2 linked regions of the Homo sapiens genome follow. The protein of the gene in region 1 interacts with the protein of each later gene in a pairwise test. Each region holds a gene or a part of one and is shown in the gene's direction. Other genes may lie near its edges.

Region 1 (3,500 bases):
CGGACACTTCATGGCTTTGTGACTTGTATAATTGAACAGGAAGCTCATGTTTATTTCCAGTTTGCTCTCAGGAAAGAAAGCAGTAATGGGGTGACAGGGAGGATCCTGTTCTTTGAAGGACATGCTGAGAGGGAATAGTCGGTGTGAGGGGCCGTTTAGCCTAATGGTGAAATGCTTAGTCAACTGGAACCTGACTGCCTGGCTCCAAATGCTGGCTTTGCCACATGTGGCCTGTGGAAGGTACGTAGACATTTGTGCCTCCGCTGCCTCATTTATAAGTTAATGACAGGAAGACTACCTACTTCTCAGAGGCATGATCAGGGATAAATAAGTCAATGCCCATTAAAAAAAAAAATAACAGTACAGGTGTACATGCCCTTACCCAAAACCCCTGGGGCCAGATGTGTTTCAGAATTTCCATTTCTTCACATTTCAGAAAGGTAACATGATGCATATACGATGTTACATAACACCCCTTAGTAAGCTCTGTAATCGGCTGTGTTCATATTTCTGCAGCAAAATGTATGAACACTCGCAATAAGTGAGATTCAATAAAGACCAGAAAGGGCCTTGTTTCATTTCAAATCAGGTTTTGCCACCAAAAGAGTTAAAAGAAGCTTTCTGCCCTTAGAGCATTTTGGATGTTGGAATGGCAGATAAGGGACTATGAACAAATCAGAAACTAATATTTAGAGCTTATCATACACCTCAGGCATATAATATTTAATCTGTACAATATCTCTGTGAACTAGGTATTGTTATCCCCATTTTACTAATGGGCATATCATTATCCCTGTTTTACACATGAGAAAATTGAGGTACAAAGAGGTTAAAGAATATCAGCCAAGCGTGGTGCCTCATGCCTGTAATCCTAGCACTTTAGGAGGCCAGGGAGAGAGGATTGCTTGAGCCCAGGAGTTCAAGAACAGCCTGGGCAACATAGTGAGACCCCATTTCTTAAAAAAAGAAAAAGAATATGCCCAGGGTCACACAGCTAATAAGTGGCAGAACCAGGATTCAAACACTGGCAATCTGGCCCTAGTGCCTGGGCAGTTGTCCAGCAGGCCATATTGCCTCTCTGCTTAGAAGAGTGCCTGATGTGTATTAAGCTCTCAATAGATGTTAATTATTGCTGTCATCAAGAAAGAGAATATTCAGGGCCGAGCACGGTATCTCACACCTGTAATCCTAGCACTTTGGGAAGCCAAGGTGGGAGGTGGGTGGATCACTTGAGGTCAGGAGTTCAAGACCAGTCTGGCCAACATGGTGAAACCATGTCTCTACTAAAAATACAAAAATTAGCCGGGCGTGGTCGTGGGTACCTGTAATCCCAGCTATGCGGGAGGCTGAGGCATGAGAATCGCTTGAACCTGGGAGGCAGAGGTTGCAGTGAGTCAAGATTGTGCCACTATACTGCGCTCCAGCCTGGGCAACAGAGAGAGACTCCATCTCAAAAAAAAAGAAAAAAAAAAAAAGAACGAGAACATTCAGGGACAGTAACAGGACAGAGAGATCAGGCATTCATTCAGTTTTAGGACGGCTTCATAAAGGAAAGGACCTTTGGGCTGGGACTTGAAAGATAAGAAAGACTGCTAGGCGAAAGAAGGAAGCCCCACGTGGAGTGAGCAGCCTTTGCAAGGGTCTGGCAAAAAAAAAACCTCCTGAAAAACTTGACATTGATATGGTAGAAGATACAGATAATATTCAAATGAGGAGGATGGAACTAGTTTTCTATTCTTGCTGTAACAAATAATCACAAATTTAGCTGCTTAAAACAACACATTTGTTATCTTACAGTTCTGTAGGTCAGAAGTCCCACACTGGTCTCAGCTGAAATCAAGGTATTGGCAGGGTTGCGTTCCTTCTGGAGGCTCTAGGGGAAAATCCATTTCCTGCTCATTCAAGTTGTTGGCAGAATCCAATTCCTTGAGATTGTAGGACTGAAGTCCCTGTTTCCTTACTGTCTGTCAGCTGACAGCCATTCCCAGCTTTAAGAGGCTGCCCACAGTCCTTGATTCTGAGCCTCCTTCCTCCATCTTCAAAGCCAACAATGGCAGGTTGAGTCCCTCTCACATTTTGAATCTCCCCTGCCTCTTCTGTCATCACATCTCTGAGCTACCTTTCTTTCTCCATCATCTGCTTTTCAGAGCTCATATGATTAGATTGAATTTCATCAAATAATCCAGAAATAATCTCCCTGTCTTAGGGTTTGTAACCTTAATTTCATCTGCAAAGTTCCTTTCTGCTATGTAGTGTAAATAACATACAGGTTCCGAGGATTAGGATGCGGAGCAGGGTTGGCATCATTTGGCCTACCACAGTCTGCCCTCTGACCCCCACAGATTCACATTTGTTTCACATTCAAAATACATTCACACCATCCTAAGATACCCATGAGTTGTATCCCATCACAGGGAGCATCCCAAGCAAGACTGGGGAGCTAGAAGTTAGTCTGGGAAGGTTTAGGGAATGATGGTAGGGTTTGAAGACAGAGATGGAGAAAAGATGACAAAAAAAGGAATCCTCCTCCCGCTGACCTCTGCCCCTCCTATGTCCACAGCCTCTCAACTCAGCTGTTTGCTCTCCAGGTACCCCTGGGATGGCGTGAGCACTCCCCCAGCGATGGACCCATCTGTGACGCTGTGGCAGTTTCTGCTGCAGCTGCTGAGAGAGCAAGGCAATGGCCACATCATCTCCTGGACTTCACGGGATGGTGGTGAATTCAAGCTGGTGGATGCAGAGGAGGTGGCCCGGCTGTGGGGGCTACGCAAGAACAAGACCAACATGAATTACGACAAGCTCAGCCGGGCCTTGCGGTACTACTATGACAAGGTACAGTCTCTCAGACCAGGGCTGGAACCCCCCCCTGACATTTATATCAGAGATTTTATTTTGTTTTAATTGCCATAGCTATGACTTTGAAAGCAATGTTAAAATTTATCAGTTTTTAACCCATCCATTGGTACCCTAAGACCAGTATTGGGCCCCTAAACACTATCTCACCTACTTTCTTGTCTTACTGCTTTGGCGAAAACCACCACTGCATTATTAATACTGACTCTTTCTACTCCCACTCTGAGATCCCCAAAGTGATGCTGCCCTGCCATGCACAACGTTTCATTTTCCTGCCGTATTCCTATAGCCAACATCTTGAAAACACGGTTAATAATGGCTGGTCCTCATTCTGTCCTCTGAAACCCCTGGACCAGTGCTGGGCTTCCCTAGTTATTTCATAGTCTTCTCTTATTCCAGAATATTTCATATTCCTAGAATCAAAACCTCCCTGACAGTATTATACCAACTTTTGCTTACTTCGTCCTCTGGGACTCCCAACATTTTTAACTAATTATTTTCTTCTCTTATTCCTTAAGCTAAAACCTCTGAAACAACATGTTTAATGCCAACTTCCACACACTGTCTTCTTAAATTCCCAGAGGAGCACTGGTCTACCCCAATATTTATATCAATTGTTTTCATTATCTTATTCCTACAGCTAAAAT
Region 2 (4,144 bases), on another chromosome or scaffold:
CTCCCACACTCACCTGGCACCACCATCCGCGCGGCTCTGCACCCACAGCCCCGGCCCGCCCCCCCCCCCCACCCCGGAAAGCTGCGTCCGGGCTGGAGCCACTGGAACCCGCGCCAAGGCCCGGAATCCTATACGTAGCAGGGGCCTCGGAGATCAGCACACGCCCTCCAGCTGCTATTTAACAGAGTAGAACACTGAGGCCCTGCGAGGGGACAAGGACAGGCCCTGGATCTCCCAGTGAATGGCCAGGGAACGAACCCGGGCCAGAGGGGCCGCGCCGCGAGGATCTCAGGTTAGGACCAAGTTCCGGCTCAGGGACAGCAGGAAAGGAACTCAGAAATTGGACACCCATGAAGCAAACGTGTCCCGACTGCCCGCCCCTTCCCCCGGAGACGCGCCCACCCGGCCACCGCTCTCTTCCCACTCCCCCATTACCCGCAGCCCTCACTCCCCGCTGCGGGAAGGGGCTGCTTGGCTGCCTCTGGGGGTCTTCAGAGCTACCCTGGTCCCGGGGGATTGGAGGAGGAGGTTACCTATCCTGCGTCGTCTTTAATCCGTGCACCACTATCCATCAAATAGAGACAGATCCTGGGCCTCTCAAAGACGGATGATTGGGGGTGGTGATTGGCCTATCCCTAAATATCTACCACGCAAGGACTCTTGAGAGATCCAGACCCCGGTACAGTCGAGGGACCTGGGGCCCAAAAAGGGAAAGCGGCTACCTCTACCACACAGTTGGGAAGCGCAGTCCTAAAGGAGACGCAGGTTGGAGACTCCGCTAAGCGGAGAAGCCGCAGTGGGGCCATGGCAAGTCACCTTCCCTTTCGGGCCTAGGAATACTCATTCGAAAGATGGGGGGACTGGAGTGCCGAGTGGCTGTGGCAGCCACGATTGGGGTTTGGAAACCATCCTGAAAGGCCCGGGGAGCCAGTCTCCTGGAACTTCTCCCTCCCCATTCCCACAAAAACCAAGCGCCCTCTCGGCCAATTCTCACCCTCTCAGGACAAAAAAGTGAGATGAGCCCGTCCTTTCACCTGCGAGTCCAAGCCCTTGGCAGAGGCCTGAAAAGTCCGAAAACTCCGAGTTCGGGCGCTGAGGTCTCCCGAGCCGGTTCCTGAACTCTCCGGGCCTCAGTCGATCGGGGTGCGGAGGGGGCCGACCCGGGGGATCTCCAAGCGCCCTCCCCGCCCTGACGCTGTGGGGCTCCTACCGCGCCGCCACAGCTGCTCCTACCTGGGGAGGTGCGCCCGGGCCCCGGGGGGCGGGCAGTCGGGGGGCGGGCAGGGAACCGGTGCCGCCCCACGCTTCGTGGCCCCTTTAAGGAGGGGAAGCCGGCGGAGGGAGGAGCCGGTCCGGTGTGTGCAGGGGAGCGCCTCGCCAGCGGTCCGCAGGGCTGGAGACCCACGCCGTGGAGAGGACCAGCCTCAGGTCGCCCCGCCTGGGCCCGCGCCCCGACCTCGCTGCCCCCGCCTCGCCTCTCTGCCCGTGGCGCTTACGGCCACCTTGGCCTCGGGGGCAGGGCATGGGCGGCCCCCGCCAGATCGCCCAGCGCCAGTACTAACTGCCCTCGCTCTGGCCTTCGAGCCCGAAGCCTCTTCTGCGCGCACAACCTAGGCAGTAATCCTAAACTAGCGGGCACCACAGACCAGCTGCAGCCACCCCAACCCAGGGATCACTTCCGGACCCCTCGACCGCCCGGCACCAGCGCGCAAGGGACCCTTCAGCCGGAGACCAGAGTCCAGTCCCGGTCACGAGGCCACCGCCGCTGCCCGCCTCGAGAAGCACCACGCGGGCTGAGCCGTCGGCTAGCGGGTCACTCCCGAGCCTCTGTCTGCACCGCGCCAGCCCCAGACCACGGACGCTGAGCCTCCAGCGCGTGCCAGCCTGGGCCGCTGGGCTCTCGGGGCCAGCCCGCGACGATCCCCTGAGCTCTCCGCAGAAGGGCCGAGCGTCCGTTCCGGGGACGCCAGGCCCGCCCCCGCCCCCCGACAGCCGCGGGGATCCAGAGCCCGGGGGTGCGGGACGCCCGCGCCATGACTGCCGAGAGCGGGCCGCCGCCGCCGCAGCCGGAGGTGCTGGCTACCGTGAAGGAAGAGCGCGGCGAGACGGCAGCAGGGGCCGGGGTCCCAGGGGAGGCCACGGGCCGCGGGGCGGGCGGGCGGCGCCGCAAGCGCCCCCTGCAGCGCGGGAAGCCGCCCTACAGCTACATCGCGCTCATCGCCATGGCCATCGCGCACGCGCCCGAGCGCCGCCTCACGCTGGGCGGCATCTACAAGTTCATCACCGAGCGCTTCCCCTTCTACCGCGACAACCCCAAAAAGTGGCAGAACAGCATCCGCCACAACCTCACACTCAACGACTGCTTCCTCAAGATCCCGCGCGAGGCCGGCCGCCCGGGTAAGGGCAACTACTGGGCGCTTGACCCCAACGCGGAGGACATGTTCGAGAGCGGCAGCTTCCTGCGCCGCCGCAAGCGCTTCAAGCGCTCGGACCTCTCCACCTACCCGGCTTACATGCACGACGCGGCGGCTGCCGCAGCCGCCGCCGCCGCCGCCGCCGCCGCCGCCGCCATCTTCCCAGGCGCGGTGCCCGCCGCGCGCCCCCCCTACCCGGGCGCCGTCTATGCAGGCTACGCGCCGCCGTCGCTGGCCGCGCCGCCTCCAGTCTACTACCCCGCGGCGTCGCCCGGCCCTTGCCGCGTCTTCGGCCTGGTTCCTGAGCGGCCGCTCAGCCCAGAGCTGGGGCCCGCACCGTCGGGGCCCGGCGGCTCTTGCGCCTTTGCCTCCGCCGGCGCCCCCGCTACCACCACCGGCTACCAGCCCGCAGGCTGCACCGGGGCCCGGCCGGCCAACCCCTCCGCCTATGCGGCTGCCTACGCGGGCCCCGACGGCGCGTACCCGCAGGGCGCCGGCAGTGCGATCTTTGCCGCTGCTGGCCGCCTGGCGGGACCCGCTTCGCCCCCAGCGGGCGGCAGCAGTGGCGGCGTGGAGACCACGGTGGACTTCTACGGGCGCACGTCGCCCGGCCAGTTCGGAGCGCTGGGAGCCTGCTACAACCCTGGCGGGCAGCTCGGAGGGGCCAGTGCAGGCGCCTACCATGCTCGCCATGCTGCCGCTTATCCCGGTGGGATAGATCGGTTCGTGTCCGCCATGTGAGCCAGCGTAGGGACGAAAACTCATAGACACATCGGCTGTTCACACGTTCCCCGCAATCTGAGAACGAACAGGAATGGAGAGAGGACTCAACTGGGACCCACGTGGAAAAGACCGAGCAGGCCACAGAGGCTCGGTCTCCCCGCGCACAGCGTAGGCACCCGGTGTACTCTGTAAACGGGAGGAGGTGGGGCGAGGCAGCCAGAGCCCTTGGACTGGCACAGGGACCCTCGATGGAGCGAAGCCCTCAAACGGGATGCTTTCTGGTATTCTATCGGGGAGGGTCCTTGGCGGTAACCAGAGGGCAGCGTAGTGTCAACACCAGAGACCAGGATCCAAATTGTGGGGAATCAGTTTCAGCCTTCCATGTGCTGCCGGAACTCGGGCCTTTTTACGCGGTTCGTCCTCTAGTGCCTTTAACTGCGTTACTACAATAAAAGGCTGCGGCAGCGCCTTTCTTCTTAAAGTGAGGAGGACAAATTTGCAAAAGAAATAGGCTTTTCTTCTTTTTTAAATTGGAGAAATCTCTGCTCTGGTTGACCTGGGCTGGTTTTCCCTGTCTCTGAGAACTTGAGACCTAGCTCCGAGTTGAACTGTGCGTCAGCACTCCAGTCCCATCACCTGAACCTTCAGTCTCCCCCATCTGTTACACTAGAGGGCTGCAGGACTCTATCCACCGCCCCCGGGTTATCATTCAGGGCCCCATCATCTTGGATGCTGCCCTGCGTATTTGGCAGCAATGGTGGGCCACCCAGGGCCTCTGAGTAGCCACCCAAAGCCTAGCCGCTGTTCTAGGGAACGGAAAAGAGTTCATGGCCAAGCGTCTAACCTAAAGTCCCAGGATTGGCTCCAGGCAGCAATTATATCATAACTTATTGAACTTTTGAGCAGGACGTGCTGGTAATTTCATGGCTGTTACTGCCCAGTCATAAATCTGCTTTTCCATTATAAGGCAGAGAGAAGTACATTCGTTCATTTGTCCACTGTTTCTT

Evidence for each region. The genes of interacting proteins can lie anywhere in the genome.
Region 2: the proteins of ELK1 (region 1) and FOXE1 interact in binary tests that used the Homo sapiens proteins (3 or more experiments, as listed by UniProt).

Annotation. Positions count from the first base shown.
Region 1 is NC_000023.11:47,640,564-47,644,063, reverse strand, and holds part of ELK1 (ETS domain-containing protein Elk-1), read left to right. Parts: intron 1-2,588; 5' UTR 2,589-2,622; coding exon 2,623-2,832; intron 2,833-3,500. UniProt on the Homo sapiens protein: Transcription factor that binds to purine-rich DNA sequences. Forms a ternary complex with SRF and the ETS and SRF motifs of the serum response element (SRE) on the promoter region of immediate early genes such as FOS and IER2.
Region 2 is NC_000009.12:97,851,882-97,856,025, forward strand, and holds the start of FOXE1 (forkhead box protein E1), read left to right. Parts: upstream 1-1,344; 5' UTR 1,345-2,033; coding exon 2,034-3,155; 3' UTR 3,156-4,144. UniProt on the Homo sapiens protein: Transcription factor that binds consensus sites on a variety of gene promoters and activate their transcription.